6 separate regions of the Homo sapiens genome follow, and all the other regions are linked to region 1. Evidence: fine-mapped expression QTL. A gene starts in region 1. Each other region holds a variant in brackets. All regions are shown on one strand. Distances are between the middles of the regions.

Evidence for each region.
Region 2: its variant is fine-mapped to the expression of KDM4B in whole blood (TOPMed, PIP above 0.99).
Region 3: its variant is fine-mapped to the expression of KDM4B in whole blood (TOPMed, PIP 0.96).
Region 4: its variant is fine-mapped to the expression of KDM4B in whole blood (TOPMed, PIP above 0.99).
Region 5: its variant is fine-mapped to the expression of KDM4B in whole blood (TOPMed, PIP above 0.99).
Region 6: its variant is fine-mapped to the expression of KDM4B in whole blood (INTERVAL, PIP above 0.99).

The regions. Positions count from the first base shown.
Region 1 is chr19:4,966,407-4,971,474 of GRCh38, forward strand. KDM4B (lysine demethylase 4B) reads left to right here and starts at 2,707. Exons shown (of 23, transcript NM_015015.3): 1 at 2,707-2,824. RefSeq lists silencers at 2,171-2,270, 2,581-2,880 and an enhancer at 4,147-4,196.
Region 2 is chr19:5,164,227-5,169,294 of GRCh38, forward strand. No RefSeq gene overlaps it. Among named protein-coding and RNA genes, the nearest start is that of PTPRS-AS1, 11 kb to the right of the region's middle. RefSeq lists a silencer at 1,334-1,553. The variant G/A (reference allele first, on the strand shown) is at 2,294.
Region 3 is chr19:5,032,821-5,037,888 of GRCh38, forward strand. It overlaps KDM4B (lysine demethylase 4B), which reads left to right. Exons shown (of 23, transcript NM_015015.3): 3 at 46-211. The coding sequence starts at 71. Among named protein-coding and RNA genes, the nearest start is that of KDM4B, 66 kb to the left of the region's middle. RefSeq lists an enhancer at 3,857-4,431. The variant A/C (reference allele first, on the strand shown) is at 2,176.
Region 4 is chr19:5,003,548-5,008,615 of GRCh38, forward strand. The region is part of intron 1 of KDM4B (lysine demethylase 4B); the gene reads left to right. Among named protein-coding and RNA genes, the nearest start is that of KDM4B, 37 kb to the left of the region's middle. RefSeq lists an enhancer at 775-1,275. The variant G/A (reference allele first, on the strand shown) is at 2,578.
Region 5 is chr19:5,125,402-5,130,469 of GRCh38, forward strand. The region is part of intron 11 of KDM4B (lysine demethylase 4B); the gene reads left to right. Among named protein-coding and RNA genes, the nearest start is that of PTPRS-AS1, 50 kb to the right of the region's middle. RefSeq lists enhancers at 1-484, 485-1,022, 1,023-1,559, 1,483-1,542, 1,560-2,097 and 5 more and silencers at 1,203-1,292, 3,227-3,391, 3,635-3,684, 3,715-3,764. The variant G/A (reference allele first, on the strand shown) is at 2,383.
Region 6 is chr19:5,148,237-5,153,304 of GRCh38, forward strand. KDM4B (lysine demethylase 4B) reads left to right here. Exons shown (of 23, transcript NM_015015.3): 22 at 2,122-2,214; 23 at 3,099-5,068. The coding sequence ends at 3,275. Among named protein-coding and RNA genes, the nearest start is that of PTPRS-AS1, 27 kb to the right of the region's middle. RefSeq lists an enhancer at 3,028-3,799. The variant C/G (reference allele first, on the strand shown) is at 2,486.

The sequences.
Region 1 (5,068 bases):
GAAAACTTTGTCTAAGCAAAATAAAGTGGAGAACCCATTTGGGTTCCTCGGTTAAAAACATTTATATTGTCTGTGAAATCTAAACACCCCCCACTGTCTCAGAGAATATACTTGGAAGTAGAACAAAAAGCCCTATGTATGTGGTACGTGGGGTGGGGACTCTTTCCCTTCATGATTGCACTTTTTTTTTTTTTTGAGACAGGGTCTCATTCTGTTGCCCAGGAGTGCAGTGGTGTGATCATGGCTCACTGCAGCCTCGACCTCCTGGGCTCAAGTGATCCTCCCTCAGCCCCCAGTGTAGCTGGGACCACAGGCATGTGCCCGCACAATCAACTCGGTTTTTATTTTTAGTAGAGAAGAGGTCTCGCTCTGTTGCCCAGGCTGGCCTGAAACTCCTGGGATCAAGTGATCCTCCCACCTTGGCCTCCCAAAGGGCTGGGATTACAGATGTGAGTCACTACACCCAGCCTGGGCAACAGCCTGTTTTTAAATTTTGTTTTTACTTTTTATTTTGAGACGGGGTTTGACTCTGTCACCCAGGCTGGAGTGCAGTGGTGTAATCAACGGCTCACTGCAGCCTCCACTTCCCCGGGCTCAGGTGATCCTTTCGCCTCAGCCCCCGAATAGCTGGGATTATAGGCGCGTGTCACCACGCCCAACTTTTGTAATTTTTTTGGTAGAGACGGAGTCTTGCTATATTGCCCAGCCTGTTCTCAAACTCGTGGGCTCAAGTGATCTGCCCATCTCAGCCTCCCAAAGTGCTGCGATTCCAGGCATGACCTGAAATTAAATCTCAACTCCATGTGGAATATATGAATATGGTCCCATAAGAATTTAAAACACCCAGAGCTTCTTAAATTCTCCTTTGACTTCTCTTTTTACCAGTGTGCAGCTTTCCTTCTCTCCCCAAGGATTAAGTTCGTTTCTTCAGTTTAGGAGTACCTTTTTCTGTGCATTGACAAGCTTGTGTGCTCTTAACCTCATGATACCGGTTTCTGTGTGTGTTTCCATATTTATTTTATTGAGTACAGGATTCTGGACCACTGTCCCTAGCTCAGCGGTTGGGAGATATTTCATGTTTGCAAACAGATCGGCCTTCTCTTTTTTCTTTTCTTTCCTTTTTTGAGACAGAGTCTCACCCTGTTGCCCAGGCTGAAGTGCAGTGATCTCGACTCACTGCAACCTCCGCCTCAGCCTCTGGAGTAGCTGGGATTACAGGCATGCGCCACCATGCCTGGCTAATTTTGTATTTGTTAATAGAGACAGGTTTTTGCCATGTTGGCCAGGCTGGTCTCGAACTCTGGACCTCAGGTGTTCCACCCGACTCGACCTCCCAAAGTGCTGGGATTACAGGTGTGAGTCGCCCGAGCCACAGCACCGGGCCTGGCCTCCTTTTCAATTGCTACATAGTAAGTATTCCAGAGTACTGATTGCTATTAAGTTACTTCTCTAATCCCCCACTGATGGATAGTTAGTGCAAAACATTGGAAACAGTTGCAGACAGCCCTGCCGCCGGCATTCTTGAATTGTGTAAGCTCCAGACCTTTTTTCTGGGTACATCACCTCCAGGAAGAACTGCTGGCTGGGTTATCGGGTGGTGGATGCACTTAGAATGTTATTAGAAAATGTCAAATTGCCCAATTTACACTCCTGCCACTCCAAATGGGGGCATGCCTCACACCCCTGCGTGGTCCAGTACACAATGAATGCTCATTTTGTGAAGTCACAGGGTCAAATCTTTCTCCGTGCCTCATCCCACTTAATCCTTGCAACATTCTCAAGAGGCGGGTAGACGGGGTGTGGCCACTACCATCATATCCATTGCACAGTTGGAAACAGACTCAGCGAGGTTACTTTGCTGGAGGTCAACCACAGTGAGGCATGGGGCCCGGCTTAGCTTTGAATCCAGGTCAGAAAGCACCAAAGCTCATTCTCTCCCATACATTTTAGGGAACTCGGGGAGAGGGACCCTAACTATTCCGAAGGCCTTGCCCCTTGGCAAAGGTTTGTTGATTGTGATGGGAATAGACCTACGGTGGCGGGGTGGAGGCTCTTGCTGCTTTACCCTATGTTCTCGGTTCTCCTCCTTTGCAAAACGGATCGCTATGTCTCCTTGCTTGGCACTTTGCAAATTGGGGAACGCTAAGCCCACATTCCGGCCACGGGTTTCGAACCTCCAGCCTGCACGTTCCCGGCCGGTGCTGATGCTGTGCTGGGTCTCACGTACTCAGCCGCCGCCTGATAACCAGGGCGGGGCCCGGAGCTTGCGGGCAGTGATTGGCACCTGCCCCAGCCTGTCCGCGCCTCGGGCTGGCCCCTCAAGCCAATACTGGCTCCTCTCTGTGCGGTCGTCGGGCGGGCCCTGAGGCTCCCTTGTCAATCCAAGGCCCAGCTGCCGTCGGGTTGGTCGCGGCAGCCTTGGCTGGCGTGCGCCCCCTCCAATGAGAACAGAGCCGGTCAGCGGGCACGTGGGTGGGCGCCGGCGTGTCCCCGCCGGTCTGCCAATGAAGAGGCGAGGCCGGCGTTTGTCCCCGCCCAATCGCGGCGCGCGGTGGGCGGGCCGTGCGGTGTTGATGGGCCCGGCGGAGGGGAGGGGCGGAGCTGTCAGCTCCGGCCAATGGGCGCTCGGGCGTGGATCCGGCAGCCAATGGCAGTCGGGGCGGAGCTGGCGCGCGGCCTTATAAGCCCCCCCGCGAGCGCTTGCGGAGGGCTCGGTCGCCAGCAACCGAGCGGGGCCCGGCCCGAGCGGGGCCTGGGGGTGCGACGCCGAGGGCGGGGGAGAGCGCGCCGCTGCTCCCGGACCGGGCCGCGCACGCCGCCTCAGGTGAGCCCACGGGGAGGCCGCCCGGCCGTGTCCGAGCGCGGACCCCGCCGCCATGGCCGCCCCCGCGTCGCGGCTCGGGGCTGCGGGCGCGCCCGGGACTCGAGGCCCAGGCCTCGGGCGCGGCCTGCTCGGGCCGGGCCTCGCGCTTTGTCCGGGCCGGCGGGGCGGTTGGGGCGTTAACCGCCCGGCCCGGGGGCGCCCGCTGGTTTTCGGGCGGGGGCGGCGGGGCCGGACAATGGCGGGGCGCGCCCAGGGGCGGGAGCGGGGGCCCCTTCCCGGGCCGGGGGCGCGCGGGGGCTGGGCACAGACGGCCCCGGCGCCCCGCACAAAAGATGACAGCGTGGGTGGCCCCGGCCGGGCCCTTTTATCACCCGGGACAAGCCTCGGCCTATTATTATTATTATTTTTGAAAGAAAGCAAGAAAAAGGAAAAAGACCCCAGCCCCTGGGTAACCCCCGCCTGCGTTTCTGGCCCTTTGGGCGCCAGGGGGGCTAAGGGGAAGCCCCCCAGCTGGACACCCAGGGATGCCCCCTAAATGCCTATCATTGCTCCTGCACTGCCCCCACCTCCGGTCAACCTGCTATGCCTTGGTAGCTTCCAAACTTGCCCCCCTGTACGTACCCGAAACCCCCACCCCGCCATAAGCATATGCAATCTGGATTTTAGAAAAAAATCATCTTGCTATGCAACGGCAGCCTCCACGAGTCTCTCCGTCCCTCCCCCTTCCAGCCTGATCGCCATCTCGAACGAAGCCCCTGCTCTAGAGAAATGAATTGAGGAGTTGCTTCCGCCGAGACCCCTTTTCTGTGTCCCCCGTGGACATCCCCCTGGGAGCTGGGGACGGACTCGCTCTGAAATCTGCTTGACCTGGGGTCTGCCAGGGCCCAGGTCTGCGCTCAGTGGTGGCCATGACAATCAGGCAGGACGGGGGACTCTGTCCACCTGGGCACGGTGGAAGGTTTTAAGGGGCATGTTTTCCGCCCCTGGGGGCAGTGGAGGCATGGACTGCTTTTGGGTGCATCCCATCTGTTTGCTTGGGGGAGGATGCTTCTGTTTTAATAATTTACCAGCACCCTGTGAGGAAGTGTTCCCCGAGTTGTGAAACTAGTGAGAAGGTGGTTCAGCTCCGTGGAGCCTAGTGATCCTGTCATATGTGAAGAGCGTCTTTTTCCATGTGTTTCTGGCTGGGGCGTGTATTCAGCAAGTTCCTTTGGGTCCCACCGGGTGCCTGCACTGTCTTGGGATCTCTGGATACTGGACTGAATTCAAGGGATCGGTGCCCTGCCCCAGTCCTCTGCCTCAATGGCCATTTATCAGAATGTCCCCGGGCTGGAGAATGCTCCTAAAAACAGCACCAGTCCTAAAGCAGGCTCATTAGACGACTCCTATGGGCTTTTATCACTGCCGTTATGGGAGCTAATGACTCCCCTAATTCTCCAATAATAGCTTCCTTATGAGCCACCAGGAGGGTTTGTCAACACACGGGGTCAGCCTTCTCCTGCAGCCCCTGCTGAAGCAGTGGGCATCCTCTCTCCGCTTTGCAGTTTATGTTTTGAAACCCTGAAGGTCGGAGCGTAAAGCCGTGGTAGAGTCAACTTCTGTCTGAGCCGAGGATTTCTGGGACTTGCCAGCCTCGTCTCCGTGTGTCTGATTGGACACCTGGCAGGTCCGGGCGCTCCCCCTCCTTGAGCCGGCGACACCAGGACGGGTCAGACTGTCCTGGCCTAGAGGAGGTCACCGCTGGGGAGGAAAAGGGGGTAACGGAGATTCTGCCGCACAGACGGGTGTCTGTGTACAGGCTGTTTTGGTGGAAGCGTCTACTGTGTCAGGAGCTGCGGGTGCCTGCGTGTGCACGTGTGTGTTTAGTTGCTGAGACCTGAAATATATATGTCTTAGTAACAATCCGTTTGCTCGCATTTTCTAACCCTTTCCTCTTTGGGGAGGGGGCTGCTAACAAGATGTTAACTGCTGGCGCTTAAAGGTATAGCTGATCAGCCACCGCACAGCACCCCGCCTGGCCTTTGTTGTACTTTTCTGTCTCGTGGAAGAGACCCTTCCTCAGCCTCCTGCCCTGTCTTCAGTCCCTGTCCCGTCCTGCAGGAGCCCTCTGGGGTGGCCAGGGGCCGTCCTCTGTGTCCTTCTCTCCCACCTGACCACTCTGCCTGTACTTTAATTCCTAATTTCTCTGTCTCCTCTGCTGGTTTCCTGCCCGTTTGTCCTATGCCCCACCCACTCCCTGATGAG
Region 2 (5,068 bases), 200 kb after region 1:
CATGTGAAAGAAAAACTGCTCGCAGTTTTGGTTTGTTTTCCCCCCTCCCCCACCCAAGAACCTGCAACAGTCCCTGGACCCTGCTGATCGTAATAGTTGCGCTCACCGAAGCAGCAGCAGAAACACTAGTTTTCCTCCTAGACCACAAAGAGGACTGAGGAAGGTCAGATTTAGTGGCCCTTACTGATGCATTCTCGGAAACATGCATCCTTGCCTTTCCTCTTAGACCACAAAGAAGACTGAGAAAAAACAGATTTAGTGGCCCTTACCAACACATTCTCGAAGACCTGTTAGAGTCCTAAGCATTTTCTCCTGTTAGTATTGGGACCTTACCCTTGTTCTATAAAGATGTTATGTCTCAAAATGGAGTGAAGGGCCATACCCTGAGGGAGGGAAGGGATCTCTAGAGTGATGCCTTTTGTCCTCACTTCTCATCATGTGAATAGGAAGGATATCATTTCTGAGGCTCCCCATATCCTAGCTTTGGGAATAGCCTTTGTTAGGCCTGCTAGTCTGAGGAGGGATCCTAAAATTCCAGATAGTCTCCCCACTGACAGGGCTTTGGGCAAAGATTGTCTTTCTGATTGGTGAGCCCAGATGCCTAAAGAAAGGAACAGAGTCCTGAAATGTATACTAGAAGTCGTTCTTATAGGAGAAACTAGAAAAGCACCAGAGACAGGGAGTGGTTTTTAGAAACAGGACTAGCCTCGGAGAGGAGAGGTGGGAGGAAGTATGTCTGACAGGCATTAGGACCCAGGAGGCAAGGGTCAGGATAGATAGGATAAATGGGCAAGTCTCGCTTGGGTGACGTGACTTTGAGAGTTCCGCTCATGGCTGCAGGGTCAACCAACTTTTTGTCAGGGCCCTGGAGCTAAATGGCTTTCCTCTCTGTTGACACTTGGCTCAGTCCGGAAGTACAGGAAAAGTGGAAGCTGGTTCCAGGCAAACCAACGCTCCCAACTCCAAAGAGTTGGGGATTGTTAGAGAGCCCTTTCCCAGAAAGCCCGACACCAGTGTCTTTAGTCTGGTGGCCACGCTAGTTGCTTTTAACTGGCCGACAAGTGCCCGGTGTTTAGCCCCTGAATTCTAAGGAAAAATAGGACAGAATAGCAAGCAAAATGGGTCCGATGGTACTCACCAAAAGGCGATATCCCAGACAAGCCCCCAAGATGTGTCCAGAGTTGGTTCCTTCCAGTGGGTTCGTGGTCTCGCTGACTTCAAGAATGAAGCCGCGGACCTTCGTGGTGAGTGTTACAGCTCTTAAAGGTGGCACGGACCCAAAGAGTGAGCAGCAGCAAGATTTATTATGAAGACCAAAAGAACAAAGCTTCCACAGCGTGGAAGGGGACCCGAGCGGGTTGCTGCTGCTGGCTGGGGCGGCCAGCTTTTATTCCCTTATTTGTCCCTGCCCATGTCCTGCTGATTGGTCCATTTTACAGAGTGCTGATTGGTCCATTTTACAGAGCACTGATTGGTGCATTTTACAAACCTCTTGTAAGACAGAAAAGTTCTCCAAGTCCCCGCTCGACCCAGGAAGTCCAGTTGGCCTCACCTCTCAGTCTTATCAATTCTGCCAGCTGCTACTGAGCCCTTGCACTGTGCTAGTTTTTCCCAAGCCCACACACACACTGGGGAGCCAGACACTGAGGATACAGCAAGTTCTTGCCCCACAAAGCCCATGCCCTTTAGAGGAGACAGATGCCAGCATCAACATTACCAGGTGTTAAGAAAGTACCTGGGAATAGTCTGAGTCCTTCAAAAAGTTAAACACAGACCAGGCTTGGTGGCTCATGCCTATAATCCCAGCACTTTAGGAGTCCGAGGCGGGTGGATCACCTGAGGTCAGGAGTTCATGACCAGCCTGGCCAACATGGTAAAACTCCATCTCTACTAAAAATACAAAAATTAGCTGGGGGTGGTGGTGAGCTCCTGTTATCCCAGCTACTCGGGAGGCTGAGGCAGGAGAATCAATTGAACCCAGGAGGGTTGCAGTGAGCTGAGACCGCACCATTGCACTCCAGCCTGGGCGACAAGAGTGAAACTCCATTTCAAATAAAAAGTTAAACACAGAGTCACTGTATGACCCAGGAATCTGACTTCCAGGATACACCAAAAGAATTGGAAGCAGAGACTCAGATGTTTGCACACCATGGTCATAGCAACATGATTCACAGTGGCCAAAAGGTGGAAACAATCCAAGTGTCTGTTGTTTGATGGATGGGTAAACACAATGTGATCCATCCATACAATGGAATATCACTCAGCCATTAAAAGGAATGGGGGTCTGACACAG[G/A]CTACAGTAGTGTGGATGAACCTTGGCATCATGCTCAGTGAAAGAAGCCAGACACAAAAGGCCACACAGTGTGTGATCCCATATCTATGAAATGTCCAGGACAGGTCAATCTACAGAGACAGGAAGGGGATTGTAGGTTGCCAGCAGCTGGGGCCAGGGGAATGAGGAGTGGCTATTTAATGGGCATAGGGTCTTCTTTGGGGGTATTTGGGAATTAAAGAGAATTGGTGACTGCACAGCACTGAGTGTGTCAAATGTCACTGAATTGTTCACTTTCAAATGGCTAACTTTATGTGAATCTCACCTCAATGAAAAAGAAATACGGGAAGGATAGACAAGAAACTAAGGATGTTGGTTACCTACAGGGGCAGGTGGGAAATTATTTAAAAGAATTAGGGCAGTAGGCAAGGTGGCTCATGCCTGTAATCTCAGCACTTTAGGAGGCCAAGGTGGGAGGATTGCTTGAGGCCAGGATTTCGAGACCAGTCTAGGCAACATAGCAGGACCCTATCTCTGAAAAAAAAATTGTTTTTAATTAGCCAGACGTGGTGGTGCACACCTGTAGTCCCAGCTACTCAGGAAGCTGAGGTAGGGGGATCATTTGAGCCTAGGAGGTCAGGGATGCAATGACTCGTGATTGTGCTACTGCACTCCAGCCTGTGTGACAGAGCCAGATCCCATCTCTTAAAAAAAAAAAAAAAAAAAAAAAAGGCTAGGTGCGGAAGCTTATGCCTGTAATCCCAGCACTTTGGGGGCCAAGGCAGGTGGATCACGAGGTCAAGAGATCGAGACCATCCTGGCTAACACAGTGAAACCCCGTCTCTACTAAAAATACAAAAAATTAGCCAGGCGTGGTGGCGGGCGCCTGTAGTCCCAGCTACTCGGGAGGCTGAGGCAGGAGAATGGCGTGAACCCGGGAGGCGGAGCTTGCAGTGAGCCGAGATCGCGCCACTGCACTCCAGCCTGGGTAACAGAGGGAGACTCTGTTGCAAAAAAGGAAAAGAAAAAAAAAAAAGAGGCTGGAAGTGGTATGGGAAAAAGAGTAGCAGGAATGAAGAGGGAGTGCCCACTCTCTGAGAACCATTTGGTATAGCTCTGACTGAAAAATCATAGTCATGTTATACACACTTTAAAAGATAACTGATTAAAATCAAGGATATGATGTGTACTCCAAATGGAAAACAAATAGTAAAATATAAACTCAGCTGCACCACAAATGAAAATCAACCACACTGAAGAGCCAGGGGAAGAATGGAGTTGATCTCAGTAAATTTGGGAAACAATGTTTCCACTGGATACTGTTAGGCTAAAAATGAAAATACCTATACACCAACACTATACTCTAGTTCAAAAATCTAGTTCTCATGGCTTAGCCATCTGTACCTACTATATGTGAATATTGCAATTGAGCAAATGAGTGAATTAATTGTAGATGAGCTAGGTTTCTCTCTGTCAGCGAAAAAAGTTACGTCAAGGGTAAAGGAAGCGGCTAGAATGAACATTGTGCTGGTTGGAATCAGAAGTGTCAGTATAGGCTGGGCGCAGTGGCTCATGCCTGTAATCCCAGCACTTTGGGAGGCCAAGGTGGGTGGATCATGACGTCAGGAGATCGAGACCATCCTGGCTAACACAGTGAAACCCTGTCTCTACTAAAAACAAAAAAAAAATTAGCTGGGCGTGGTTGTGGGCGCCTGTAGTCCCAGCTACTCGGGAGGCTGAGGCAGGAAAATGGCATGAACCCAGGAGGCAGAGCTTGCAGTGAGCCGAGATTGCGCCACTGCACTCCAGCCTGGGTGACATAGCGAGACTCCGTCTCAAAAAAAAAAAAAAAAAGTGTCAGTATCAATCCATGATTTTCTAATATATATATATAGACAGATGTTATAGAAATATATAGTCAGTACATATAGATGCAGAAATAAATATGTAAGTATATATATTTATATTATGAATACAGGTGAAAGGGCTCAAACTTGTAATCCCAGCTATTTGGGAGACCAGGGTGGCTTGGGGAGAATCGCTTGAGGCTAGGAGTTCAAGACCAGCCTGGACAACATAGCACAGCCCCATCCCTACAAAAAGAAAAATGTTAAGAAGAAATAAATAAAGATGTGTGTACACATGGCTAATCTGATACCCCAATAGCAGTGAGCATACTAGCACCCCGATCTAAATACCATTCTCCAATAAAAGGAACCAGGGGAGGAATCACTGATTTTATGACTGGGACAGAGAAAACACAAGACAAGGTACAGGCACATACCGCTGTGCCCAGCTAATTTTTTATTTTTTTTGTAGAGATAGGGGTCTCACTTTGTCGCCCAGGCTGGTCTTAAAGTCCTGGGCTCAAGCGATCCTCCCGCCTTGGCCTCCCAAAGTTGGCCATACCCAGCCTACATGAATGATTCGATGGGGGTCTGGGCTCGGTGACTCATGCCTGTAATGCCAGCACTGTGGGAGGCTGAGGTGGGCAGATCACCTGAGGTCAGGAGTTCGAAACCAGCCTGGCCAACATCGCAAAAACCCATCTCTACTAAAAATACAAAAATTAGCTGGGCGTGGTGGTGGGCACCTGTAATCCAAGCTACTCGGGAGGCTGAGGCAGGAGAATCACATGAACCCAGGAGGTGAGCCGAGATCATGCCACTACACTCTAGCCTGAGCAATACAGCAAGACTCCATCTCAACAACAAAAAAAAAAAAAAAAAAGAGAGAGAGAGAGAGAGAAAGAAAAACAGAAAACACAAGATAAACCTGAAGCATCTTGTGTTCCCA
Region 3 (5,068 bases), 66 kb after region 1:
GCATGGCGGCACCGCTGGTTCACCCTCTCTCGTCTTCCTCCACAGGTGTGCTTCCCGCACAGCTGCAGCCATGGGGTCTGAGGACCACGGCGCCCAGAACCCCAGCTGTAAAATCATGACGTTTCGCCCAACCATGGAAGAATTTAAAGACTTCAACAAATACGTGGCCTACATAGAGTCGCAGGGAGCCCACCGGGCGGGCCTGGCCAAGGTGGGTGACATCCTGGCCCCAGCGCGGCCCTCCATCAGCCTGCGCCGCGGGCCTGCGGACATCCTGGGTCCCAGCTCAGCCAGCCCCACAGGCGTGGCCTGTGCACGTGGAATGTGTTTCGGGGCCACTCCCAGCTCGTTTACCAGCGCCTGTTTGTGGAGTTCCAACAATGTGCCAGGCACCATTCTAGGCACTGGAGTTGAGAAGTGGCCGGTGCAGGCCCTGGCTCCAGGGAGCTGGCAGGGGGTGGTGAGGACACACAGCCACACTGCAGTGAAGCCCAGGGGCAGTGGGCCACCAGGTTGTTCTGGCCGTGAGCTGACGTCTCACTGAGGGACGCCTTCCAGGGGTGTTCAGTGCCCAGGAAGGCCTTACTTTCCTAGTAAAACTTTTTTTTTTTAAGCTGGGTATGGTGGTGCATGCCTGTGGTCCCAGCTATTTGGGAGGGTGAGGCAGGAGGATTGCTTGAGCCCAGGAATTAGAGGCTGCAATGAGCTATGACCGTGCTACTGCGCTCCTGCCCCGGCAGCAGAGCAAGACCCTGTCTCAAAAACCAAGTCAGACCACACCAGAAACAATCTTTTTGAGATGGCAGAGTGACTGGGTCAGGAAAACTCAAACAGGGCGACAGCGCAGGTACATAGTGACCAGGAGCCTCCTCCCTGTCCCGACCCAGTCCCCCACCCTCTCCCTGGAAGCAGCACTGTTATTGGTTCTTCTCTCTCTCTCTCTCGGCATATTGTGCACGCGTGTACGTGAATACACACAGCAGACCCCCGAACCCCACATGCTGAGTATGTACAGTACCATTCTGCTCGTCTGGGCATGGTGGCCCAGGCCTGTAATCCCAGCATTTTGGGAGGCTGAGGCAGGGGGATTGCTTGAGGCCAGGAGTTCAAGACCAAGCTGGCCAACACAGTGAGATCCCATCTCTACTAAAAATACAAAAATGAGCCAGGCGTGGTGTTGGTACATGTCTGTGGTCCCAGCTACTCGGGAGGCTGAGGCGGGAGGATCACTTGAGCCAGGGAGGTTGAGGCTGCAGTGAGCTGAGATTGCACCACTGCACTCCAGCCTGGACGACAGAGGAAGATTCTGTCTCACAAAACAAAACAAACTTAAAAGTTGGTGCTGCACGTTTCACGGCTCTGAAGGTGGCTGCCGTGGTCCGTGAGTCTCTGTGTTCGGGTGTGGGCCTGTTCGAGCAGTGCTCACCCCTCAGTTTGGAAGATGAATCGTCGTTGCATTTTGGGTTCTTCCAGTTGCCTGCTGTTTGACTATCGCTGTTCTTCCTCAGTTAGGCCAGGGGTTGGCGGGCAGTCTCTACACACGGCCAGAGGGTGAACGCCTAGGCTCTGTGAGCCAGAAAGAGCAACCAGACGCCGTGTGAATGAAAGTGCACGGCCCTGTGCCAATACAACATTATTCCTGGATGCTGGAGGGCAAACGCGTATTGTTTTCACGTCTTCTGCTTTTTTCTTTTCCCCCAACCACTTAAAAATGAAAACAAACAAACAAAAGCCTTCATAACTCAAAGGCTATACAGAAGCAGGAAGGGGCTGATTCGGCCCGAGGGCCGCAGTTTGCTGAGCGCTGAGGCCTCCTGCCTTTCCGGGCCGCCTCCACCCTGCCCCTCCCTCCACTCCCTGGTTTTGGTGGATTTTGTCAGTAGCCTTCGTCTCTCTCCTAGTGATCCTTCGGTATCAGACTCGCATTGTTATTTCTTTGTCTCTGAGCTGTAGAGCGAGGGAAGCAGTCTCGCACCATCTTTTCTTCCCCTCCAAGATGGATGTTTTTTCTGTTTTGAGAGGGGGTCTGGCTCTGTCGCCCAGGCTGGGGTGCTGGGGTGCAGTGCTGCGATCACGGCTCACTGCAGCCTTGACCTCCTGGGCTCAAGCAGTCCTCCAGCCTCAGCTTCCCGAGTAGCTGGGACCACAGGTGTGCACCACCAAGCTGGATTTTTG[A/C]TTGTAACACACCATGACGATGTGGGAATGATGGCACATCTGTGTCCGGGTCAGAACGGTGGGGGCTGCTGCCGTCCCGGCTTCAGTTCTGTCTTTAAAAGGCTTTGGTCCTCCTATCTCATCTCAGACCGTCTTCTCTGGCCCTCTAGGCCACAGGCTGCTATCCCAGGAAAGGCCCAGGTCCTCCTCTTCCTCCTCTCCCTGGTGCACATAGGGCAGGTGGGACAGGCGTCGCCTCCCTTTATCCTGGCACCGCATCTGCCTCTGTCTCCTGCCCTTGACCTACTTCCACATTTCCCAGGATGCAGCAGCCCTTTCTGGCTTGGGATCCAAGGCGTCCTGATGTCAGGACGTTGAGGGGAATCAGCATCTCAGACCGCCCTGCGCTCTTCCGAGGTGCCTTTAAATGCCCGCCCCGTCACTTCTTCCTCATCCCTCACCTCCCACCGGGCTCCATGCCCCGGTGTTTCCGGCTCTCTCTGCCCTCCACGTGGCGGCCTTGGGTGCAGCCTGGGTTCCCGGGTGGCCTGTCCTCCCCCGCGCTGGCACCTCCGCTTCGTCCCTCCCTCCCTCTGCCTCCTTGGCTGCCGCCTCTTTGAGCCCTCATGTCGCTGCTTCAGGTTTCTGCACTCCCCCCAGGCCAGTTCCCCCGAGATTCTTGGCACCGGCGTCTTAAGCCAGTGTGGGGAGTATGGTTTCCCTGCCTTGCGTTCTGCGTGTTCCTTCCCATGCCTCTGCAGCGGCAGCTCCCATGCTGCTTCTCCTTGCACCAGTGCAGAGAATCCTTTCTCAAACCCGTGGAGGGGGCTGGGCAGTAGGGGGCCGTCCGGGTCCCATGCTGTGGAGGGGCTGTGTGTGCACGTGTCTCTGTGTGTGTGTGTGTGTGCGCGCGCGCGCGCGCCTGCGCGCACAGGAGACTGAGGTGGGGAGGCAGCTCTCACACAGCCCAGAGAGCTTGGCAGCTGCAGAGTCACGTTGGCACCCGCATGTGGCACACGCACACCCCCTTCTGCAGCTCTGTGGGGACAGATGGGCTCAGGGAAGCATCTGCTCTGGCCCTGGGCAGCCCTGCGTCTTCCAAATGGGGGGCCCTTGGCTCGGGGCAGCCAGCCTCTTTGGAGAAGGAGCACAGTGCCCTGCTGGTTCTGAGCGAGCTGTGGGGGTGTTGGGGTCCCCCTCTCACCCTGGTCTGCCTGCCTTGACCACTGTGTGTGTGCGTGCATGTATGTGTGTGGTGGGGGAGCTGGGGGTTTCCTGGTTCCATCAAAACTGTGTTTGGTTATACATCGCCCCTGCCCCCAGCAGAGATCTGCAGGCCCGATGGAGCTCGGTGGGGGCGGGAGCTGCGGGCACAGCCCTGAGAGGGCCCTGGAGCTGGCGGTGCCCTGGGTGCAGGAAGCCTTCCACTGGAGTTGCTGGGCCCTCCACACGGGGTGTCCCCGACCACTTGGGAAGCACTGAGGTGAGAGGAGCCCTGGAAGGCCCCGTCGGGGGTCCTGTTGGGAGGGGTGGGAACTTCCAGTGCCCCTCCACCCCCACCAGCTGCCTCCCAGGCGGGTGCCAGCAGGGGAGGCCCTGGCTGCCCTCAGCTATACCACCCGCCGGCATCTGCCTCTCACTGTTGGCATGTGGCCGGTCGCCTTCCTGGCCTCAGCTGAATCTGGCCCCCCAGGAGCCCCGTGTGAGGCACTTTCAGGGGCCGCCGGAGGCCTGGAAGACCCGAGTGTGGCAGTAGGAATGTCCCGAGCGGCTTTCAGTGCCTCCTTTTCAACCCTCCCCGCCTGGAGCCCTCCTTCTGGATTTGCGTCTCGGCAGATTGTGGGATGTCACTTCTGTCCTCTTCCGCCCTGCGGGATTTTCCCAGAGCCTTCGGGTTTGAGCCCAGCTGGAAGTGGCCCTCGTTCACGCTGCCTGTCAGCACCTGCCTGGGCTGTGTCACCTAGAGTGTGGCTCCGTGTGTGCGGCGCAGACACCGTGGGGGTGTTTGGAGCTTCCTGCGTGGCTCCCAGATGTCTTTACTACACAGTGCCCGCCGTGGAAGGGACAGATGAGCAATGTAGCCCGAGGCGTTCTTTCAAGAGCAGAGGAATCGGGAGCGAAGTGTTTTTGTTCATTTAGCAGACTAGGATCATGGGCGAGTTTCCTCTAATAGCACTGAAGAGGCGAATTCACGGCTTCCCCTCGGCCAGCGGCTTTGGCGTGGATTTGGAGCCGGGCCAGGTTCATGGAACCCTCCTGCAGAAGCAGACTGGGGCTTCCTGGAGAGGGGGGACAGTGTCTGTGTGATTCAGAGCAGTGCTGGCCTGTGGGTCTCTGACCATACCACTCAGTTCTCTGTAGTAACATCTCGTGTCTGGGACACAGGCCCTTTTGTTTCTGTTTCTCGCCTTTCCACTCCTCAATGTCTTCGTGTCTCACTGACTCTTCAGCTGCTCCCCTGAAATCTAAGAGAACGGCAGCCCCGCAGCTGCCCCAGCACCCTGCCATCACACAGCCTGTGCCAGGGACAGGTGCCCCAGGCGCCTTTTGCACTGTGGCCATAGTGGACATGGAGAGTCTCCAGAAAGAGCCGGCGCTAAGCTGGACTGTCCTTTCCTTGGGACCGGCCTCATCTTGGTTTAACTCTAAATTAGTGTTTCTCTTCGCTTGGCACTGTGGACTTGGGGCCGCATCGTTCTCTGGGGTGGCGCCATCCTGGGCATTGCAGGGTGCTGAGCAGCTTCCCTGGCCTCCATCTACCTCATGCCAGGAGCACCCTCAGTCGTGAAAGCCACAGACATCCCCAGACATGGCCAGGTGTCCCCTGGGGGACAAGACCCCCCCTCAGTTGAGAGCCACCTGCTCGCTGCGGCTGCTGCTGCTGTTACTGCTTTTGCTAAAGAAACCTGTGCAT
Region 4 (5,068 bases), 37 kb after region 1:
CCTGTAATCCTAGCACTTTGGGAGGGTGAGGTGGGTGGATCCCTAGAGGTCAGGAATTTGAGACCAGCCTGGCCAATATGGTGAAACCCCGTCTCTACTAAAAATACAAAAATTAGCTGGGCATGGTGGTGGGCGCCTGTAATCCCAGCTACTTGGGAGGCTGAGTTAGGAGAATCGCTTGAACCCGGGAGGTGGAGGTTGTAGTGAGCTGAGATTGTGCCACTGCCCTCCAGCCTGGGTGACGAGAGTGAGACCCCGTCTAAAAAAAAGGTCCCTGCTTACCCCACTGCCTTGGGGAACCCCCTCTGTCCCCCACACAGTCTCCGTATATGCCTGAGTCTGTGTTTGGTCTTCCTCGTCTCTCCACAGCAGGTCTGCCCCGTGGGTTGTTGGCCGCGGTCGGATGCTCAGCCGCTTGAGAATGCTGTCTCCTGCCTGGGTGCGTCTGGCTCCCCTCTGCGCGTCCTGTTTCGTGTTATTTTTTAGAGTTTGTGCATTTCTCTGTGTACTTTGGTACACAAATGCTTCTTTGAAGTTAATACGTGGCAGTAAAGCTGGCACTGGGGACGGCTAGGGCGGTGGATGGCGTGTGTCCTGGAGGGCGGGTGTGCTGGCAGAGACTTAAGGATGAGGTTAAGGATTCTCCTAAGTCCTTTTCTTCTGGGGGAAGGAGACTCGTGGGAACCCCTCCAGTGCAATGGCCTCGCCATTTCCACACGCCGGCCCCTGGCACTTTCCACCATTCGTGTGCTCGGCTCCCAGCTCTTGCCCTGCCACAGGCCCTCGCTCCCTCCTCACCCGGCCTGGAGTGCATGGCCCACAGTGGGCCTGTTCTCACCGCGCATCCCGCCAGCTCCTTGGCCCTTCTCAGCCCTTGCTGCCCCCCGGGCTCATACACCTCTACCCACGATCCAGAGACGGATCGTCAGGCCCACCCCAGCCCGGCAGCTTCCTAGAGCAATGCCCTCAGCCAGGCATGTTGTCTGGGGACGCTCGGCAGTGTCTAGACACAGCCAGTCCCTGTGACCCGGTGTGCATGTGTGCTGCCGTGCACGTTTCAGCTCCCCAGTTTCATGTAGTTGAGAACGCTTGACTGTGAGATGCACCACGGCTCTGTGCTCCCTGGGAGTCCCCGTACCCCCGTGCGGTGAGCGTGAGAAGTCACCCACAGAGGGGCAGGAAGGCGGTTATATTTTAATGGTCACAGGTGGGCAGTACCCCTGGGTGTTGGGCAGAGGCCACCCCTGCTCCCCTCCGGAATACACTCCCTACTGTCCAGGCAGCCCTCAGATTACAGCCCCCAGCCTGACCCCAGAGACATGCAAATATGGGACAGACGTAAGGCTTTGGTGCCGGAACCAGGAGCATCCCGGGCAAAGTGAGACGAGCTGGTCACCCCCTGCACAGTCTCCCACTTCCCCAGGCTTCATTCTCCCACCCCTGGAAGTGGTAACCCTTCTAGAGGTACCTGTGTAGCGTCTTCCTTTTCTGCGCGCTCTGTGTGTGCCGGCCTGTCCTGCGGCCGTCACCTGGCAGATAGCTGCTGTCCCAGGGATCCAGCACAAAGCTTGGAGATGCGTCTGTGCAGCCCACTCTGTGGCTGTGTGTGGAGTTGATGGTGGACTTCTGTCACCCCATGACATCTGAGGCTACAGGAGTGGCCTGTGGAGATGTTGGTGGCCAGGTGGCACAAGTATGGAGAACACAGATGCCCGGGGCAGCTGGCAAGAAGGGGCAGGTGCTTTTGAAAGATGTTACCAAACCGTCCTTCCCAGTGGTGCTGCCAGGCCACTGGGGCATAGATCAGTGTGGGCACCTGTTCCTCCATGGCCTCTGTGACCTGTCGTGTCATTGGACTTGCTGGTCAGCCTCCTGAGTGACAGGATGGTGACAGCTGCCACTTAGGGGACCTCATTGAGCTTCCTGAAGACCCCACGATGAGGGTGTTAACATGGGGAGCCCCCTTTACAGATGAGGAAACTGAGGCCCCAGAGGTGGGGGCCTCACCCTCCTCCGGGCCTCATGGTGGGTGGTGGGGGTTCACCTTCCTTTATTTGCATGTGGATATCAAGCAGTTGTCCCAGCACTGTTTGTTGAAACACCTTTTCTTTCTGCATTCAGTGGTCTTGGGACCAGGCCTTGGGGGACTGTGCTCTGTACCATGTCCTCACCCAGGACGTCCCTCTAAGATCGCTCTTAGAGGCTACAGGGCCACGGGGGAGAAGGTCCCCACCATTCTCCAGCGGCTGCCTCGCCACACAGCTGGGAGGGATGTGGGGTAGAGAGCCCCCTGCTTGGCACTGGCCCTGGGGGTCTAAGTGATATGAGGGGCAGGGGTCGCCCCTGCAGTCACCGCGTCCTCCTCTGGCGGAGGTGAGTGGTGATGCTGGGTCACAAGAGGTGGCTTCTCATCCCAGTGGTCTCGTGCTGCACTTCAGGGCCTCCATCACCTGATCTGGGGGCTGTGGGGGTCCTGGGAGAGGGCTCATGGGTAGGGGACAGTTTTTGATGTTCTCTTAGTGAAGGACAGAGAAGAAGGATGGGGGGCTGGTGGCGGCGGCAGGGAGCCAGGATGGT[G/A]CTGGTCCCGCCTCCCTTCCTTCCATCCCTGCTGCAGGCCTGCCCTCTTCATGCCTGGCTCCCCGCAGCCTCTCCCTGTCCCCGTCTGTCCCGCCACTACTGGAACCCCACCCTGCCTCTGGGTAGTGTGCACCCCATCCTCAGAGCGGAACCCCCATCCCCTGGGCTTGTGGGGGCTTCACTTCCTGCTGTTTCCCCGCAGCCCACGGCCATTCTCCTGCTCCTCCCACCCCTCCTCACTGTCCTTCCTGGCACTCCAGGCCCCTCCGCCGCATCTTTCTGACTCGTGTTGCCACATCATCTGCCCTGGCTGGGGTTTTATCTCCCTGGCAACTGGAAATGTGTTGGTTAAGATATGGTGAGTTAGGCCGGGTGCAGTGGCTCATGGCTGTAATCCCAGCACTCTGGGAGGCCGAGGCAGGTGGATCCCCTGAGGTCAGGAGTTCAAGACCAGCCTGGCAAACATGGTGAAACACCATTTCTACTAAAATTACAAAAATTAGCTGGGCATGGTGGCGCATGCCTGTCATCCCAGCTACTTTGGAGGCTGAGGCGGGAGAATTGCTTGAACCTGGGAAGCGGAGGCTGCAGTGACCTGAGATCATGCCGTTGCACTCCAGCCTGGGCAACAGAGCGAAACTCCATCTCAAAAAAAAAAAAAAAGATATGGTGAGTTAAGAGGGTAACCAGCCCTGGAGCTGACAGCCTGGGTTAGCACCTCTGGGACTTGGGACGGCCTCCATGTTCCGCTCTGTGAAGTGGGAGTGACAACAGTGCCTTTCCCATGGGGCTGCTGGGAAGTGACTCAACGAGGAGCACCAGCAAGGGGACACCAGAGCGGGCCCCAGCCACCTCCTGGCAGAAGCATGGGGCTCACGAGGCGGGGCGGGGGTGGTGAGGACCAGGCGCAGACCTGGGCAGGGACCTGGGCGGAACGGGGGAGGCGGAATCTTCTAGAAGGGCCTTGGGGGAGGGCCCTGTCCCCACCATCCCTCGTGAGCACCCCCTGCCAACCTCCATCTCCCATTTGAGAGTTGGGGAACGTAGCAAAGTTATCTCAGGACTGGAATATGAATGGCAGCTCTTGGCCAGGCTCTGCCATATTGGAGAGGTTTCTAGAAGGTCCTGGAAGCCCACTGGCTCCTCTGTCATTTTCGGCATGGTTTTGGCCTCTCCTCTTCTCCCTTGCTTCATTGCTGTGATGTCAAGCATCTCTTCCTGTGACTGTTGACTCTTTTTGTATCTTCTTTGGAGAAATGTCTGCTCCATCCTTTGCCCGTGTTTTCTGTTAGGTTGTTTGTCTTTTGTTGAGTTGCAAGAGTTGTTGACATATTCTGCATACAAGTTCCTTATCAGATAATGTTTTGCAAATATATGTTCTCCTGTTTTGTACATTGTCTTTTCACTTTCTCTCTCTCTTTTTTTTTTTTTTTTTTTTTGAGACAGAGTATTGTTCCATCTCCTAGGCTGGAGTGCAGTGGCACAAACATAGCTCACTGCAGCCTCCAACTCCCAGGCTCAAGCGATCCTCCCACCTCAGCCTCCCGAGTAGCTGGGACTGCAGGTGTGCACCACAATGCCTGGCTAATTTTTTTCTTCTTTATTTTTTGTGGAGATGGCATCTTGCTGTGTTGCCTAGTCTGGTCTTGAACTCCTGTGTTCAAGTGATCCTCCCACCTCTGCCTGCCAAAGTGCTGGGATTATAGACATGAGCTGCCATGACCAGCCAAGTCTTTTCACTTTCTTGAGGTCTTTGCAAACAACTTTTCTTTTTCCACATGCACTTTTGGTGTTTTAGCCAGAAATCTTGCCTGATCCAAAGCCACGAAGGTTTAATCCTATGGTTTTCCTAAGAGTTGGGTAGTTCTGAGCTGGGTATACTAGCTCACATCTATATGCCCAATGCTTTGGAAGGGTGGGTTGGGAGGATCGTTTGAGGCCAGGAGTTTGAGACCAGTGTGGGCAACATAGGAAGATACTGTTGGTACAAAAAGTTTTTAAAAAGAGTTTTGTAGTTTGGGCACTTACATTTAGATCTATGACCTATTTGGAATTAGTATAAATATATGGTGTGAGGTAAGGGTCCACCTTCATTTTTTGTGTGTGAATATCCAGCTGTCCCAGCACTATTTGTTGAAAAAACTGTTCTTTTTGCATTGAGTGGTCTTGGCACTGTTATTGAAAATCACCTGACTTTAAGCGTGTGGGTTTATTTCTGGACTCTCAGCTTTCTCCCGTTTATCTAATGTCTGTACTTATGCCAGTACCATGCTGTCTTGATTACTGTAGGTTCATAACCGTGAATTATTTTTTGTCTAGTCTTGAGTGTAGATGTTAAGGAAAAATAATATGGTTCTTACATTAACATATAGAGACCCAGATTAGCTGATGAGACTACAGCCTTCTTAGTTGAGATCCAGAAAACCCTGGCTGTTCCCTGCCTCCTTGTTTCTTCTTTTTCTTTTTCTTTTTTTTTTTTTTTTTGAGACAG
Region 5 (5,068 bases), 160 kb after region 1:
GCGGCTTTCCTCCCCTGACAGTGGCAGTTGCCCGCTGGAGAGAAGCCTACACCGCGTGGGAGGGAGGGGAAACCAATGGCTCGTCCAGCTGCCTGGCGTAGGTGAGGCCCTGGCCTGGTCACTCACCATCCTGTTTAAAGATGTACAGGGCAACTCGCTCCCTCCCGAGATCCCCGGGGGTCCACACGCCCGGTGCAGTGGTCACGGTGCCAGGAGGCTGGGCCTGGTGCATCTCTGAGGCCTGTGGCTTCCACGGGTCTCTGAAGGGATCAGCCCCCACAGAAAGGCCAGGGACCAGCGAGGAGGGTTAGGGGCTACGTTGGTGGCACGTCAGGGTCTCTGCCCAGGGAGGGCTCAGGACTGGTGCTGCCCACCCCCCGCCCCCCGCCCTGGACACCCTTATCTCTGTTCCACGACAGAGACTCCTGGGAAGGACCCAATCTGGCAGGGGTGGGCGTTTTCTTGGACACAGCCGTTTTCCCGGGAGCCCGAAGTCCCAGGAGCCTCTGGACGAGAGGTTTATCTCGAGAGAGCCTCATAAATGCATGTTCACAGTCAGGGGCACGACAGGAAATGCATGCCACAGTGCTGCGGGAAAGATTTCCTAAAGCGGTTTCTGGTCCTCCTTGAATGCCAGTTTCACGCCCCTAAAAGCTATGACGCTGAGGCACCTTTCAGGGCCTAGCAGTGGGGTGTGGGGTTTTGTGTTTTCATATGGAACAAGCTGGGAAGGGGCCAGAACCTGTTGCTCACAGGGGCCAGGGGGCATCAGCATCGGGGAGGAAGCCCCTCAGGAGGAGAGGTGCCTGGGGGGCGGTTGAGAGGCTGCTTCCCAGTGGCTGCTGGTGTCCCCTATCCCATTCTTACTGGCTGCTTCAAGGTCTGGGAAGAGCGGCCGCCCTATTGCCCAGCGCTAGGAGGGACTAGCAGCCCCACCAGCCAGCCCTAACCCCAGAACCAAGCAGAAAGCAGGAAGGCGGCCTCGTCCACCTCTCCTGAGCCTCCGGGGAGGCCCCGCCTCCTGGAAGAAGGCCTGCAGTGCAGGACACACAGGGTCAGGGGGCAGAGCCAGGATGGGGACCCAGGAGGGCTGGCATAGTGCCGTCCTGCCTCCCAGAGGGTGGAAAGGCTGCGGTGAGTGGGGCAGCCAGCCCCCAGCCCTTCCCCTCCCCTCGCCCCGGAGTGCTGCTCTCAGGAGAGGCCTCGTGGCTGGTGACTGGTTTTAGAACACGGAAAGCAAAGGCTGCCATGTCTGGAGGGCGGCCCCAGCTCATAGTGAGGGGCTGTGAGCTCAGCCCGGGGACCCGCCAGCACATCCCAGCTGGGCCTCTGGGACCGTCAGGCGCACCCGGCTGCGGGTTCAGCACGGGAGGGTGGCAGTGTTGAAGGGGGTGGCCAGAGAGCCCCTGAGACCGGGGCTGGTTGGCCCAGGCATGGAAGCCAAGCACGAAACTTGAGGGAGGGGCCCCATAAGCCAGGCCGAAGCTGGTGAGTTGATCTCGGCAGCCTCGGAGCAGGAACAGAGTGGTGTCCTTGGAAATGGGTGGTTTCTTGCCCCCTCCACAGGGCAGCCTGGGCCTCGGGCCTGTCTTGGGGTTTGCTGGAGGCTCTGGTGGAAACCCCGGCGCTGGGGAGGAGTGGCCTCGCCACCAGGCAGGCTAGTGAGCCCTGGTGGTGGGGTTTCCGCTGTGACACCTTCCCTCCACCCAAAAAGAGTGCTAGCAGGGCCTCAGCTGGCTGCCCTCGGGGGCCTGGGTGCATCCTGGGCCCCATCTGTACCATGGTCCCTGCTCTGTCCTGAAGCCCCTCACCCGCTTCCCTCCCTCAGGCCAGGCAGGTGAGGGGCGTGCCAAGGTCCCTGTGGAGTGTAGTCCCCATGGCAGGGACAGAGCCCCAAGGAATGGCCCACAGCAAGGACAGAGCCCCGAGGAATGGCTGCGGGGTGTGCCGCCGTCTTTCAGGGTGTCCTTCCTAGCCTTGGGCATCTCCCTCTAACAGGGTCCCCTGTGTGTCTGCCCGGGCTTCACTGAGCCTGGGAGCCGACAGGGAGAGGGCTGGAAACTTGTTCTTGTGAGTTTGAGAATCCAGGGCACCAGCAGGTGCGGGCTATGCGTGGAGTGCGTTGAGGCTGCCGCCATTGTCATTCACTGCTGTCTCCAGACAGGGGATGGGGTGGCACTCATCAGCCGGGCACCTGAGGCTCAAATTATGTCCCACTTTGTCTCCCATGCCTGGTCCCTCCGGGAGACAGAACCAGGCAGCCAACCAGGGAGGGCTGTGGGGAAGCGGGACTTGGGGCCATCCCTGTCCTTGGAGGAGGAGGGAGAGAGCCCTACAGTGTGGCCCTTGGTGAGAGGACAGCCCCCGGGAGGCCTAGGGGAC[G/A]ATGGTGGCCTCAGCTCCCCACCCAGCCTTGCCTCCCGAGCAGAACCAGGGCCTGGGGCGGTCACACCAGCCGCCCCTCAGCTCCCAGGAGGCCCCGTTGGTCGGGGGAGGATGCCAGCCCCTTAGAGAGGCGGGGACTCCCCAGGGACCCTCTGAGCAGGCACCTGTGGTCTCGTGAGGACAGCCCGGCTCTGTGTCTCTGGCCCCACAGCCCTGGCTGGAGTCCCCTGTGCACAGAGCTGCCTGTTGTGTGTGAGGACAGCCCAGCTCTGTGTCCCTGGCCCCACAGCCCCGGCTGGAGTCTCCTGTGTGCGGAGCTACCTGTTGTGTGTGAGGACAGCCCGGCTCTGTGTCCCTGGCCCCCACAGCCCCGGCTGGAGTCCCCTGTGTGCGGAGCTGCCTGTTGTGTGTGAGGGGTGGGTGGGGGTGCCGGCTGGGGACTCTGATGAGTGTTTCCTCCTCGCCTCCTTCCCCAATTCCTCATGTGTGCACTGAGTGGCCCTGCAGCTGGAGGCCGTGAGGCTGTGTCCTGGCATCTTCCTCCCTCTCCTGAGACCATCGATGCCCCAGGTGGGGCCCTCCTGGGCCAGATCCCACGCCAGCCCCTGCCCTTGAAGTTGAACCCGGCTTGGGAAGCCGGCCCAGCAGTGGGGGGCCTGAGTCCCAGTCCCCGGTGAGGCTGGATGGGCACCGCAGCCTGCAGTCCTGAGTGAGGCTGGGCAGGCGCTATCATGGACGAAGGAATATTGGATTTCCTTAGGGGAACAAAGCTGTTTGTCCTCAAGTGCCTTTTACACACGCAGGACAGTGGCTTTCCTGACAGGCGCTCGGGGTGAGGCGTGCGGCCTCTGCAGCCTCCCCGGGCTGCTCCAGCTTCCAGCCCTGGTGAAGCTTCCGGCCCCTCCCCTCTGCATCTCCACGCCTCTGCTCCCAGCCTCCCAGGGAGGGGGTGCCTCCCCTCTGGCATCGGCAGGGAAAAAGTATTTCTTCCCACGCCAGCCTGTCTGCTGTGTCCAGTGTTTACCTCCCCTGGCCAGATAACAGCTGAGGGGCCAGATAACAGTGGAGGCGGGGGGCGGGGGGGGGGGTCATATAACAGCGGGGGGCCCGGATACCAGCGGAGGGGAAGACTGCGCTCCCTGCAAGGCCAGACAGGACCTGGGGGTGTTCCAGGCTCCCCTGCCGGGGTGGAGGTCAGGGAGGAGCCCGGCCAGTGCCCCCAGTGCCCCAGAATGCTCAGGACTAGCAGGGGTGGGGGCCAGGGCAGTGGCGGGGGCTGCCTTCACCTTATGGCTGCTCGCCTGTCCTTCTTGAGAAACAGGTGGGCGTGTGCCTGCCAAGGACACCGTGGGCGGTCCCCCAAGCCTGCAGATGGAGCTGGGTAGGGTGTGGGGAGGAGAGCTGGAGCAGGGAGGGCAGGGCCGCCTCCACTCCTGGGGGAGGCTGTGGGCTGGGGGCCCCTTGTGGGAGTGTGTGGGGCAGTGTGGCTTCCTCCTGGCTGCAGGGTCTGTTGGGGGAGGGTCCTCACTTGACCCTTACTGGGGTCAGTGTGGGTCAAGGGTTAAGTGTCACCCTCGGCCCTTGGGAGCCTCATTGCTGAGGGTCTCAGCGCTTACCACTGGTCCTGGCATCACGGACTGTGGAGCTGGGGGCAGCCCGTGGTGGGTTTTATAGCAAGTGGTGAGATGTGGGCGCTGTGCTCCAAACCAGACCCCGTTAAGTGCCACATGGTCAACAGTTTAGTGTGCAGAAATGAATTTCCTTCTCTTAATTTTTCCTTATTTTTCCAGCCTGTTGGGGGAGGTGGAGGTGGTGAAATGTTAGCAGTGACCAGTTCATCCTGATCTGCTTGGGACCTTCCAGTTTTAGCACTGAAAGCCCCACAGCCCAAGAATCCCTTGGATATCAACCACGGTTCCTCCTTCCAGAATGTCCCAAGAGCCTTAGGGCCTGGAGACACACAGGTGGGGGCCTGAGCCCCTGTCCCCCTCCTCCAGATGGAGCAGGCAGGGCCCCAGGGCCCCAGGGCTCACGGTGTTCTGGGGTCCACAGTGTGCTGTGCGGCCAGGCTGGTCTTCCTCGAGGACAGGGCTCCAAGTTGCCGTGCCACAACTTACCCTGAGTGCGGCGGCCCTCAGAGGGATTGCCCCGGCACGAGCTTCCCACAGCCCGACACAGAGCGCCGCTGGGCTCACATGGAGCTGTGTGCAGGGACAGGCCCTCCTGGGCACTCCAGGACAGAAACCTTTCCCAGCATCTAGAGGCCCCTGCATCCCTCAGCTCGAGTCCCTTCCTCTCCCTTCACAGGCACAGCGCAGCCTCTTCCAGTCTCTCTCTGACTCTCACCCTCCCGCCTCATCTTGTGAGGGCCTTGTGAGGACATCGGGCCTCTTGGATCATCTAGGATCACCTCCCATTTCACTCAGTCCCACCCACAGAGTCCCCTCTGCCAGAGTCCCCCATGTCCCTCTGTCATGTCCCACATCCACATGTCCAGGAGAGTTGGGACCCGCACGCTTCTGGGGGCTGTGATTCAGCCAGCCAGGCTGCTCATCCCAGTTTTATTTTATTTACTGCAAACCCGTCCTGGCCCCAAAGTAAAATGCCACCAAACACATGAGTCAACTGTCCCCTCCCTGTCACCTGTCAGGAAATCTCCCCATTGCTGGCCCCGGGGAGTTCCACG
Region 6 (5,068 bases), 180 kb after region 1:
ACTCGCCCTGTGGAGACTCATAGTGAAAGCACGTTCCAGGGAGGCCACTGGGAGGAAATCAGCCTGAGTCTCCAGTCAGCCCCCAGTTCCCAAATGACCCAGGCACAGAAGTTTCCCTGGAGCCCACTTGGACCCGGCAGTGTGAGCGCCATCCTCCTAGGCGGTTCTGTGCTCCTGAGAATCTGGGGCGGATCTCTGCAGTCTTCCTGACCCAGAAACCTGAGCCAGTTTCCACTGAGTTTCTAGAACGCGCCTTCCCCTCCTGGCAAGGCTGCTTCTGTGCCTGACTGAATCACTGTGTGCCACGCCTGCCAGAAGCCGAGAGGCCGAGTCGGGGCCGGGGAGCTGGGGAAAGGCAGCAGGTGGGCCCTGGGACTCCTGCAGTGGGAGCTCTAAAACCCGCTGCTGCCCGTGGCAAAGCGGAGCCTCCAAAACCCGCTGCTGCCCTTGGCAAAGCGGAGCCTCCAAAACCCGCTGCTGCCCGTGGCAAAGCGGAGCCTGGCCACGCCGGGGGTGGAAATCGCTTTCCGGGGTGCTGGGGCTCCGACACTAGGACTCCTTCACCCAGACTCTCCTCACCGGACAGACGCTGGGAAGGGGCCTTCTCCCGGTGGCTTTCCTCTACAAATGAGATGGGTAGGACGGGGCAGAGGGTGGCACCCATGTCCTTGGTTCCCAGCAGGCTCCTCCACACATCCCCGAGAGATGTGTGCTGTCGTCCCAGGACACGGCCCAGAGGCAACCGGCCATCTGAGAGTCCACACTGGGCACTCCCAGCCCTGCTTCTCCCGCCGCCTGCGCCGGCCAAGAGGCATGTGGAACCCACAGCAGACACTTGCTCCAGGGCCTACGTCTGTCTCCATCCCCACCCATCCCTGGAGGAGTCACAGGGACCGGCAGGCTTGGCTGCCCCAAGGCAGGGTCTGTGCTCCCTTGGAGAGGGAGGTGCTGCGATCCCGGGCCCCCCCGCTGCACACTACGTGGGGCGTCTAGCCCCAGACACACTTCCGCGATGGTCTTACTGTGTGACTTTTATACACTTCCGTCATGGTCTTAGTGTGTGACTTTTGTACGCTTCTGTGACAGTCTTATGTGTGCATTTTGTTCATTTTGAGACGGGGTCTTGATCTGTCACCCAGCCTGGAGTGCAGTGACATAATTAGAGCTCACTACAGCCTCCACCTCAGCCTCCTGGGTAGCTGGGACCACAGGCACATGCCACCATGCCTGGCTTGTTTTGAGTTTTTAAATGTGAAAAGCGAGCCCTCTGATATGGGAACCTTCTCCCCCTGGAGCAGAACGGCAGTCAGGCCCAGGGAGTGACCCCAGCACCTTTCCTGGCTTGGGAACACGGCGCCCATCGCAGTTATGAGGTGGGCCTGGAGACACGCCCCTCCCTGGCACGCCCTTCATGGGACAGTGTTGTGTTGCCAGAGGGCCCCTGAGAGAGTCTCCGCGAGCCTGAGCTGGCACCAAGCTTAACGAGGAGGAAGCGGGGTGCTCCCAGTGCCCCTCACCAGTCAGGCATCTGCCACCTGGAACAAGGCACCAGCTGGGGAGGCTGGAAGGGGGTGATTTTTCTCTGAGTTGAAGGGAAGAGGTGACTGAGCTGTTTTCAGAGGGCCACACATAAGCCAGGGACCCTGTCCTTCACCTTCTGGTTGGGGGCTCCTGAGCTCAGGCCCCTGAGTCCGCCTGTCCGGCCTCCCCTGCCTCCCAGGCCCTGTTAGGGCACTGCGCCTCCTGCCTGGCTCTGTGTCCACCAGTGACTCTGTCACCTTGTCCTGGGGCTGTGTCTTCATGGAGACAGATGTCTTTTGAGCTGGGAGGAGGTGAGGGGTGAGTGTTCTGTCTCCATGTGGAAGCTGCGGGGCCCTGCCTCTGCCCCAGGCTGTCCCGTCCTCCGTCATCCTTGCCCCGTGGTACGGGACCCTCAGCCTGATCCTTGTTTGCTGCAGGCGGTGTCAGAGGTGGACATGAGCTTCAGCTTGGCTGCATGTGGCCTCTAGCGGGCCCCATGCACCCAAGGGGGCTGGCCTCCCAGCTCTTGAGGCCGTGGCCTGCCTGGAGCACCTGCCATCCTGGCAGTGCCAGGCCCCTGAGAGCCACATCCCCCTGCAGGTGGAGTTTGAGGACGGGTCCCAGCTGACGGTGAAGCGTGGGGACATCTTCACCCTGGAGGAGGAGCTGCCCAAGAGGGTCCGCTCTCGGCTGGTGAGTGCGCGAGGCTGGCCTGGTGGCTCCGGGTGACTCAGGGAGCCCGTCTGGGACGAGGCAGGGCACAGACTGCGTCTTCCAATGGCGTGGACCACCCCCTCCTCTTGCACCTCTGCTGGAAGGGGGTCCCGGCCGCCCCAGCACAGCTGGTCCATGGGCTCCTGGCAGGAGACCCTTCCTTTGCCTTGACTCCTGGTGCCGCAGCTCCTGGGCGATGCCGTTAATGTGGGGAGGGAGGGTTGGAGAAGCCCCGCCCCTCCCCTTATCA[C/G]GAATGCAGAACAGACCCTCCCAGCCCCCTGTGCCCTGCAGGACCCGCGCTGCCCCACCCTGCACAGGGCGGCCTCTGAACCATCACAGGTTTTGGGGTACAGGCGAAGTACGGGCACCCCAGTTGTCGGCTTAAAAAAGCTTTTCCTGAGGTTTTTCCTTATTAAACGGGAGCCTGAGTCCTGGAGGCAGCGGAGGCAGCTCCAGCTTTCGCTCCCCCAGCCCTCATGGGCTTCCTTTATTCTCTTTCTAATCGAGAGGCGAGAGGCGAGGTGTTGAGGGGCAGAGCCCGTGGGGGAGGTTCCTGGTCCTGGCCACAGCTGCTCAGCCGCAGAGGGGTCCCTCGGAAAACAGATGGGAGCTGCCAGATGGACGGTCCCAGCCCCAGCCAGGGTGCCCACCCCACTAGGGGGCCAGAGGCTGGGGCCGAGTGCAGGGCCCCTCTGCTGGCAGGATCAGGGGTTTACAAACACGAAAACAGGAGCCTGCTGAGCAGCCCCCACAGCAATCAGGGCTCTGTGTCCAGCCAGCTCCTCTCAGAGGCCATAGACAGTGGCTGGGGCCGCACAGAGTGTCTCCACCGTGCTAACCACTGTGCTTCCGCTCTCCCGCAGTCACTGAGCACGGGGGCACCGCAGGAGCCCGCCTTCTCGGGGGAGGAGGCCAAGGCCGCCAAGCGCCCGCGTGTGGGCACCCCGCTTGCCACGGAGGACTCCGGGCGGAGCCAGGACTACGTGGCCTTCGTGGAGAGCCTCCTGCAGGTGCAGGGCCGGCCCGGAGCCCCCTTCTAGGACAGCTGGCCGCTCAGGCGACCCTCAGCCCGGCGGGGAGGCCATGGCATGCCCCGGGCGTTCGCTTGCTGTGAATTCCTGTCCTCGTGTCCCCGACCCCCGAGAGGCCACCTCCAAGCCGCGGGTGCCCCCTAGGGCGACAGGAGCCAGCGGGACGCCGCACGCGGCCCCAGACTCAGGGAGCAGGGCCAGGCGGGCTCGGGGGCCGGCCAGGGGAGCACCCCACTCAACTACTCAGAATTTTAAACCATGTAAGCTCTCTTCTTCTCGAAAAGGTGCTACTGCAATGCCCTACTGAGCAACCTTTGAGATTGTCACTTCTGTACATAAACCACCTTTGTGAGGCTCTTTCTATAAATACATATTGTTTAAAAAAAAGCAAGAAAAAAAGGAAAACAAAGGAAAATATCCCCAAAGTTGTTTTCTAGATTTGTGGCTTTAAGAAAAACAAAACAAAACAAACACATTGTTTTTCTCAGAACCAGGATTCTCTGAGAGGTCAGAGCATCTCGCTGTTTTTTTGTTGTTGTTTTAAAATATTATGATTTGGCTACAGACCAGGCAGGGAAAGAGACCCGGTAATTGGAGGGTGAGCCTCGGGGGGGGGGCAGGACGCCCCGGTTTCGGCACAGCCCGGTCACTCACGGCCTCGCTCTCGCCTCACCCCGGCTCCTGGGCTTTGATGGTCTGGTGCCAGTGCCTGTGCCCACTCTGTGCCTGCTGGGAGGAGGCCCAGGCTCTCTGGTGGCCGCCCCTGTGCACCTGGCCAGGGGAAGCCCGGGGGTCTGGGGCCTCCCTCCGTCTGCGCCCACCTTTGCAGAATAAACTCTCTCCTGGGGTTTGTCTATCTTTGTTTCTCTCACCTGAGAGAAACGCAGGTGTTCCAGAGGCTTCCTTGCAGACAAAGCACCCCTGCACCTCCTATGGCTCAGGATGAGGGAGGCCCCCAGGCCCTTCTGGTTGGTAGTGAGTGTGGACAGCTTCCCAGCTCTTCGGGTACAACCCTGAGCAGGTCGGGGGACACAGGGCCGAGGCAGGCCTTCGGGGCCCCTTTCGCCTGCTTCCGGGCAGGGACGAGGCCTGGTGTCCTCGCTCCACCCACCCACGCTGCTGTCACCTGAGGGGAATCTGCTTCTTAGGAGTGGGTTGAGCTGATAGAGAAAAAACGGCCTTCAGCCCAGGCTGGGAAGCGCCTTCTCCAGGTGCCTCTCCCTCACCAGCTCTGCACCCCTCTGGGGAGCCTTCCCCACCTTAGCTGTCTCCTGCCCCAGGGAGGGATGGAGGAGATAATTTGCTTATATTAAAAACAAAAAATGGCTGAGGCAGGAGTTTGGGACCAGCCTGGGCTATATAGCAAGACCCCATCACTACAAATTTTTTACAAATTAGCTAGGTGTGGTGGTGCGCACCTGTGGTCCCAGCTACTCGGGAGGCTGTGGTGGGAGGATTGCTTGAGTCCAGGAGGTTGAGGCTGCAGTCAGCTCAGATTGCACCACTGCACTCCAGCCTGGGCAACAGAGCGAGACCCTGTCTCCAAAAAAAAAAAAAAGCAATGTTTATATTATAAAAGAGTGTCCTAACAGTCCCCGGGCTAGAGAGGACTAAGGAAAACAGAGAGAGTGTTACGCAGGAGCAAGCCTTTCATTTCCTTGGTGGGGGAGGGGGGCGGTTGCCCTGGAGAGGGCCGGGGTCGGGGAGGTTGGGGGGTGTCAGCCAAAACGTGGAGGTGTCCCTCTGCACGCAGCCCTCGCCCGGCGTGGCGCTGACACTGTATTCTTATGTTGTTTGAAAAT